2 linked regions of the Homo sapiens genome follow. The protein of the gene in region 2 interacts with the protein of the main gene of each other region in a pairwise test. Each region holds a gene or a part of one and is shown on either strand. Other genes may lie near its edges.

Evidence for each region.
Region 1: the proteins of HMMR (region 2) and CDH13 interact in a two-hybrid assay, tested with the Homo sapiens proteins (one large-scale study listed by BioGRID and IntAct).

What each region holds. Positions count from the first base shown.
Region 1 is NC_000016.10:83,781,321-83,785,146, reverse strand, and holds part of CDH13 (cadherin-13 isoform 1 preproprotein), read right to left. Parts: intron 1,894-3,826; coding exon 1,675-1,893; intron 1-1,674.
Region 2 is NC_000005.10:163,463,390-163,467,215, reverse strand, and holds part of HMMR (hyaluronan mediated motility receptor), read right to left. Parts: intron 3,361-3,826; coding exon 3,262-3,360; intron 2,494-3,261; coding exon 2,414-2,493; intron 1-2,413. UniProt on the Homo sapiens protein: Receptor for hyaluronic acid (HA). Involved in cell motility. When hyaluronan binds to HMMR, the phosphorylation of a number of proteins, including PTK2/FAK1 occurs.

The sequences.
Region 1 (3,826 bases), on a different chromosome or scaffold from region 2:
TCCTCTGGACCACCCCTGCTCAACGTTTAGCCCAATTGCTGTACAGCCGAATTATCTGTGCTTTGACAAGGTTTCCTAATTTCTTCTCAGTCCCCACTCCCATCTCTAACCCTTCATCTGAAATTGTCTCTGCTTTACAGAAAAGACTCAGGAGAAGCCTCCGAGGGGTGGCCTCTTGATTTCTATTTTCTCTCTCTCTTTGCAGAAGATAAAGTTAGAAAGCCAGTGAGATAATCGAGGTTAAGTGACATTAGTACCTGAGACAGGAGGGTGGAGGCAGGGATGGATGGAAAGTGTTGGACCCTTAGACTCTGTTGGGCTTTGCAGTGGGAAGACCAGGAAGGAGACATGGAGATGATGGTGATGATGATGGTGGTGGTACAGTCATCAGAGACAAGTCAGGCAGAGGGGCAGGTCAGGAGGGGAAGATGATATGTTCGCTTTCAGAAATGCCCAGTCTGAAGGGCCAGTGAAATGCTATAATGGCTTCTTGTTTCCTTTTTTTTTTTTTTTTTGAGACAGAGCCTTGCTCTGTCACCCAGGTTGGAGATCAATGGCATGATCTTGGCTCACTGCAACCTCCGCCTCCCGGGTTCAAGTGATTCTGCTGCCTCAGCCTCCCGAGTAGCTGGGACTACAGGCATGTGCCACCATGGCTGGCTAATTTTTGTATTTTTAGTAGACACAAGGTTTCACCATGTTGGCCAGACTGGTCTTGAACTCCTGATCTCAGATGATCCACCCACCTCGACCTCCCAAAGTGGTGGGATTATAGGTGTGAGCCACCGTGCCTGGCCCTTCATTTTTCCTTCTACTCACAGGACTCTGGTCTTGCACAGAGCTTTATATACGTGAATGTCCAATGTTGTACTATGTGATTTCCTGGCAGCTCACCACTGTCAGTAGGATAAAAAACCTTCTGTTTTCTTTTTCTGTCAATTTCCCAACTTCCTAATTCACAATTACACCGATACGTTCTCAAAAGGTAAATTGCAAGGCCCAAAAGGCTTTTGGATGGTAACAGTTATATATGAATAACGGCTAAAGTTAACATTGGACTAGTATTTCATAAATAAGGAATATCTGAGACATGTATTTATTAATTTTATCCTCACATCTATACTACTTGGCATAATAATTCATTTGTTAAAAACAATGTTTCATGATATTATAGTCATTATTACTAGCCAGTGAAAAAACAGTGTAAATTATGCATTTATCATTTTCCCTGCAGCCCACCCTCCATCCATAAATTCTCACGACTATTCTCAGAAAGTCTCATAATATCTGTTTTAACCTTGCAAAAGATTATTCTGCATAATGTAGAGAGAAACAGGCCTCTGATAGACTAGTTAACTAATCTGGGCGCATTTTCATTAGCTCAAGTTGAGTGGCAGCTGTAGGAAGTTTTGCTTACCACCTAGTTTGCAGGCTAGCAATGAACACCTTTGCACAATCCCTCAGACTGGCTGGCAGGGATTGTTAAGATGCCTTTAAACATCAGTGGGAGCACTTTTACATATAACATGTTCTATCATACAGACATACACTAAAGATGAATGATTCTTCTGGGAAACATCTTCTTGGAAAGGTATATGGGAAAATGCTGGCTTCACGAACCCAGTGAAGTTACAATTTCCTGTTTGTGCATGCACTGGAGTTAGGTCAACTTACAAGCTAAGCTGAAGAGGCTGAGGAGCAGGACTGAGGGCAGGCTGAAGCGCAGGGCCCCTGCCGCGTTGCAGTCCACTTTGGAATTCCTGCAGGAGCACACTTGTACCCTGAGATCTGTGATATTCGTCATGGGTGGTTTCCCTGAATCTGTCACCATGATGGGCAGGTTGTAGTTTGCTTTGTTCAGATTTTGAAGAAGGCTTACCAGGGCGTGTGTATCTGTAAAGGCAAGGAGGGTTCTGGTGAGAGTGGATGAGACTTTTTCCAATAAAAGAGTGAGGTTTTGGTGATGAAAGTCACACCAAACAGGCATTGCATTTTCATTTATAATTGTGCGAATGCTTACATTTAAATTCATTAACATCAAGTGAAAATACCAGTTCAGATCCTCAGTGGCACCTGCCACATTCCAAGTGCCCAGAAGCCACACATGGCTGCTGGCTCCTGTAATGAACAACACAGAGACAGAGTGTTTCCATCACCAGAGTTCTGTGCCTCGGCGCGATTATAATCAGTTTCAAGGAGAGCTCCTTTCATGAAGATGATTGATTACCAAGAACTCCTCCCTGCAAATTTATTACACGAAAAAGCCATCTTGACAAAGACTGCGTTCCACATCTAGAAAGCTAAGGTGAAAATCCACCTGCTCTCAATGTGGGCAGGACCCTAATGTGTTATCATGGAGATGGGTTCTATAGCCTACATTTTTTGTCTTTAGTTTTTTTTTTTTTTTTTTCGAGACAGGGTCTCACTCTGTTGCCCAGCCTGGAGTGCAGTGGTGCAATCTTGGCTCATTGCAACCTCCGCATCCTGGGTTCAAATGATTCTCCTGCCTTAGCCTCCCGAGTAGCTGGGATTACAGGCACACACTACCATGCCCAGCTAATTTTTGTATATTTAGTACTGATGGGGTTTCACCATATTGGCCATGCTGGTCTCAAACTCCTGACCTCAGGTGATCTGCCTGCCTCGGCCTCCCAAAATGCTGGGATTACAGGTGTGAGCCACTGAGTCCAGCCTTGTTTTTGTTTTTTTTGATCAATCCTCTGTCCACAGCTCTACATTTGGGTGGGAACCCGCAACATAGAGACTGGATCTTTAAGCTTCCCCTCCACTTCCCTGATGTCATGTGCGGTGGCAATAGCCACCATCACCCAGGCCCCTGGGTGACACTTGGCAGTGGCTGCACCAGCTGGCCTATTCTTTAGCCTTGAGATAAAGTCACTCACATGATTAGGGTCATATGTATTTTTAAGTGCCCCTTTCTGGGAATAAACAGGGCTAAATATTCAGAAAAAAAAACTGTGAGACAACAAAATCATTTAGAAGGCATTTATCTATTAGGTAAAACCAGGAGAAAAAACAAGAGAGTAATGACAGGGAAATAAAAATACATGAAGCATGATCATTACCAGAAGGTGACAGGAGCAGCAATGACTAATGTGATGCTCACCTAGTGAGATGGCAGATTAAATCAAACAGCATTTTCCCATCTTCCTTTAGTAGAGGATACAATCTTTTTTTTTTTCTTCTTTTTTTTTTTAATTGAAGTTCCGGGGTACATGAGCAGGATGTGCAGGTTTGTTACATAGGTAAACATGTGCCATGGTGATTTGCTGCACAAATCATCCCATCACCTAGGTATTAAGCCCCACATGCACTGGCTATTTATCCTGATGCTCACCCCCCTCTGCACGCCCCCAAAAAAGAAACTCTTGAATGAGAAAGTTCCAATTGGAAAGAACTGGAGATGATTATTCAAATAGGCTATAGCCATAAAAACTAGCAAATAAAACACTAACCCCTCAAACAAGAGAAGGTCTGTTTTAATTAAAAATAATCAGTATAACAGAATTCATTATTTAAAAAGCAATAAAATAGACAAACAGGCAAATAGAATCAATAACAAGCAAAAGGCACTAAAAAAATGAGATATGAGATAGGGCTATAACAATAGATATGAGATTTTTAAATAGAAAATGTTATGCACAATTGTACAATACATTTGCAAAACCTAATGAAATGCGTAATTCTCTGTCTCCCTCAAAAGTTCTACCACTGACATAAGAAGTGGGAACCCTGACGGGGTCAACAGCAGGATAAGTATATTATTGAAGACATAGTGTCTAATGTCTTTCTTTTTCTTTTTTCT
Region 2 (3,826 bases):
ACACTATATCTTTTTATATCCAACAGACTTTCTGACACAATGGCTAGAAAAAGAATATCTTTTCCATCTAAAAATGGAAGAAAGGCATCAACATCTTGAATGAAATCTGTTTCAGATGTTTCTAAGTGGGGCAGGAGGTGGGGGTGACATCAGTGTCATGTTTATTAATTTCACACTCCATGAAATTTTTTATGGGGAAGGACTATTATTTTGGGGCTCCATACAAACTTGTATGTAATTTAGTTTTCTAAGGGGCTTTATAAATTACAAAATTACAGAACAGTTTCTTCAAGAAATTTAAGTCAAACCACTTACATCAATTTCTAAGAAAAGAGTGTCTATAATAGTCCTGCCCAATAAAAATAATGCAAGCCACCTATGCATTTAAATTTTTCTAGTAGTGTGTTTAAAAAGTAAAAATCTTAATATATTTTATTTAACCCAACATATCAAATATATTTTTTCAGCATGTCATTGGTATAAAATTATCAATGAGATGTTTTATATTTTTGTACTAAGTCTTTAAAGTTTTCTTTGTATTCTACACTTATAGCACGTCTTAATTCAATGCTAAATTTTCATCAGAAATGTTTATGTATATTTAATTTCATAAAACATAGAAAGGAGAAAGTAAATTCACATACTCAAGTTGTTCCAAAAATATTTAAAAGCGTTCCACTAACAAAATCGAGTATGTCTTTAAATATGTATTAATTAAAATTAAATATTAAAAATTTAGTTCTTTAATAGCACTAGCCACATTTCAGTTGCTCAATAGACACATGTGGCTATGCTTCCATACAGAACAACATAGCTCTATATTACAGAATATGAGGCTTAGGCAACTGCCAAATGAATGAACAACCTAAGCCTTTTTCCAACTCTGAATATTTTTCACATCAAAAAACCTATTAATTTGTACAACTTTTTTACTTTATTTTTATCTTTGAGATAGGTCTCGCTCTGCTGCCCAGGCTGGAGTGCAGTGGTGCAATCTCTCGGCTCACTGCAACCTCTGCCTCCCTAGGTTCAAGCAGTTCTCCTGCCTCAGCCTCCCGAGTAGCTGGGATTACAGGTACGTGCCACCACACACGGCTAATTTTCTTGTATTTTTAGTAGAGACGGGGTTTCACCATGTGGGTCAGGCTGGTCTCGAACTCTTGACCTCAAGCAATCCACCTGCTTCAGCCTCCCAAAGTGCTGGGATTACAGGCGTGAGCTACTGTGCCCGGCTGTCTTTTTTTTTTTTTTTGGAGAGACTGAGTCTCGCTCTGTTGCCCAGGCTGGAGTACAGTGGCACCACCTTGGCTGACTGCAACCTCTGCCTCCCAGGTTCAAGCAATTCTCCTGCCTCAGCTTCCCAAGTAGCTGGGACTACAGGCACGTGCCACCACGTCCAGCACATTTTTGTATTTTTTAGTAGAGATGGGGTTTGACTACATGTTGGCCAGGCTGGTCTCAAACTCCTGACCTCAAGTGATCCACCTGCCTTGCCTCCCAAAGTGCTGGGATTATAGGCGTGAACCACTGTGCGCCCCCCAGCTGTCTTTTAAAAAGTATTATATGGCGGCTGGGTGTGGTGGACAACACCTGTAATCCCAGCACTTTGGGAGGCCAAAGTGGGCTGATCACCTGAAGTCAGGAATTCAAGACCAGCCTAGCCTGCCCAACTGGCTAATATGTTTAAACCTCGTCTTTAGCAAAAACACAAAAAGTAACTGGGCGTGGTGGGGCGTGCCTGTAATCCCAGCTACTGGGGAGGCTGAGGCAGGAGAATCGCTTGAGCCTGTGGGGACAGAGGCTGCAGTAAGCTGAGATGGCGCCACTGCACTTTAGCCTGGGTGACAGAGTGATACTCCATCTCAAAAAAAAAATACATAAATAAAATTTAAAAAGTACTATGCAGCTTGCCTGTTTATAAACTTATGAAAAGAGTAATAGTAGCTCTTGCACAAGCCACAAGACTATTAAGAATTTAATCTCTCACCACTCCTTAACAGTTTCTCAGTAGCAAACCTCTCTTAGATATTGGCATTTTTTCCCACTTTTCTTCAAAAACACTTACCCTTCCCCACAAACAAATACACAAAAACAAAACAACTCAAATGGTGGTACTTAATAAATCAAAGCATCACATAATTTTGAAATGTTTACTAGGTAATGAACAATTTAAACATAGAAGTGATTGAGAATTGAAGACCATTATAATTGTGAACTAAGGGCACATTTAAACATAATGACCTAGGCAGAAATGTAAAACTTGCTAGAGTTCTAATGATAACTCATTTCATTAATTTACAGATTTACTTATAACCTTGATTCATACACTTAACCCATTCTAATCAAATACAATACTTTCAGATGTTTTTGATGATACACTTGATAAACCAGCTGGCATATAAAAGCTCCTCACCTTTGATTCCGAAGACTTAACTTTTCTAGCTGAAGCAGGCAAGGTAGTATCTTTGTCAACATTAAGATTTTGTTTAGATTCTGCGGAAAAATGAATTGTACAGATCATGGTTGATGTCAATGTGTTTTAACTACACACAAAACACAATTTCCAAATTTTTTTGTCTTTCTCTTTTTGTTTGTTTTTGTTTTTTGAGACAGTCTCACTGTCACCCAGCCTGGACTGCAGTGGTGTCATCTCAGCCCACTGCAACCTCTGCCTCCCAGTTTCAAGCAACTCTCCCACTTTCCTCCCTAGTAGCTGGAACCACAGGCGCACCCCACCACACCTGGCTAATTTCTGTATTTTTAGTAGAGATGGGGTTTCACCATGTTGGCCAGGCTTGTCTCGAAATCCTGAACTCATGTGATCCACCCACCTTGGCCTCACAGAGTGCCAGGATTACGAGCACGAGCCACCTTGCCCGGCCCCAAATTTCTAATTACAACTTTTGATGAAACAATATATTCTTTCCTTAGTTGTACATTTTCAAATAATTACTCATACAATTTTTTTACACATCTAACACCTTTCTGATTTTCCTAATATTCCCTGACAAGTCAAGGTAATTACCAAAAGGGAAGCTACATATCAATATAAGTATCTTGCTTAATTTTCCTGGTTATATAACAATGTAATGATGACAGCATTATTCTGTACTTGACCCTTTCATAAATCCATCAAATAAAATTTAAATATAGTTCTAGCTTCACATTTTAAAAAATGCTATAACATCTTTAAATATTGTTATTCATAACTTTAAAACTTATAAGATCACATAACCATTGTTCTTTGGTGATCTATATTACCTTTTTGTTGTTTAAATCTTTGTGATTTCTGAAAGGATACTGGTCCTTTCAATACTTCTAAAGTTTTAACATCATAAGCACCTGGAGATGGTGCACAACCTAGAGGAAATAGAAAACATTAATATATTATCTAATGTTACTTATGATCTTAAGTTAAAACATGTCATAATAAAGTGAATATAAATGTAAAAATGTCATTAACAAACTGCTTTTTTTAAATGTAAAAAATTGCATCCATTTGATATTACAAAGAAGGCCTCTCTATGAAGAACAATATCATCTTGCCCTTTATATCAACCGGGTCAAAGGAACACAGGCAACTGAGCAAACGACAGTTTTGAGATGAACATCATATATTACAGGCAATATATGGCTTTCTTACTAAGGATTGAATATAGCAAATAAAATACTTGGTGTCAACTCTACTCGAAGAGAGTCACAAAGATAACTACTATCAGTTTCTAGAAATAAAGTAATTAAAATTGTCTATCCCTCAATGTTTAGCCTAGAATAAAAATTTATAGTGATAATCCATCTCTGGCTAATATCAATACATCAGACCTAT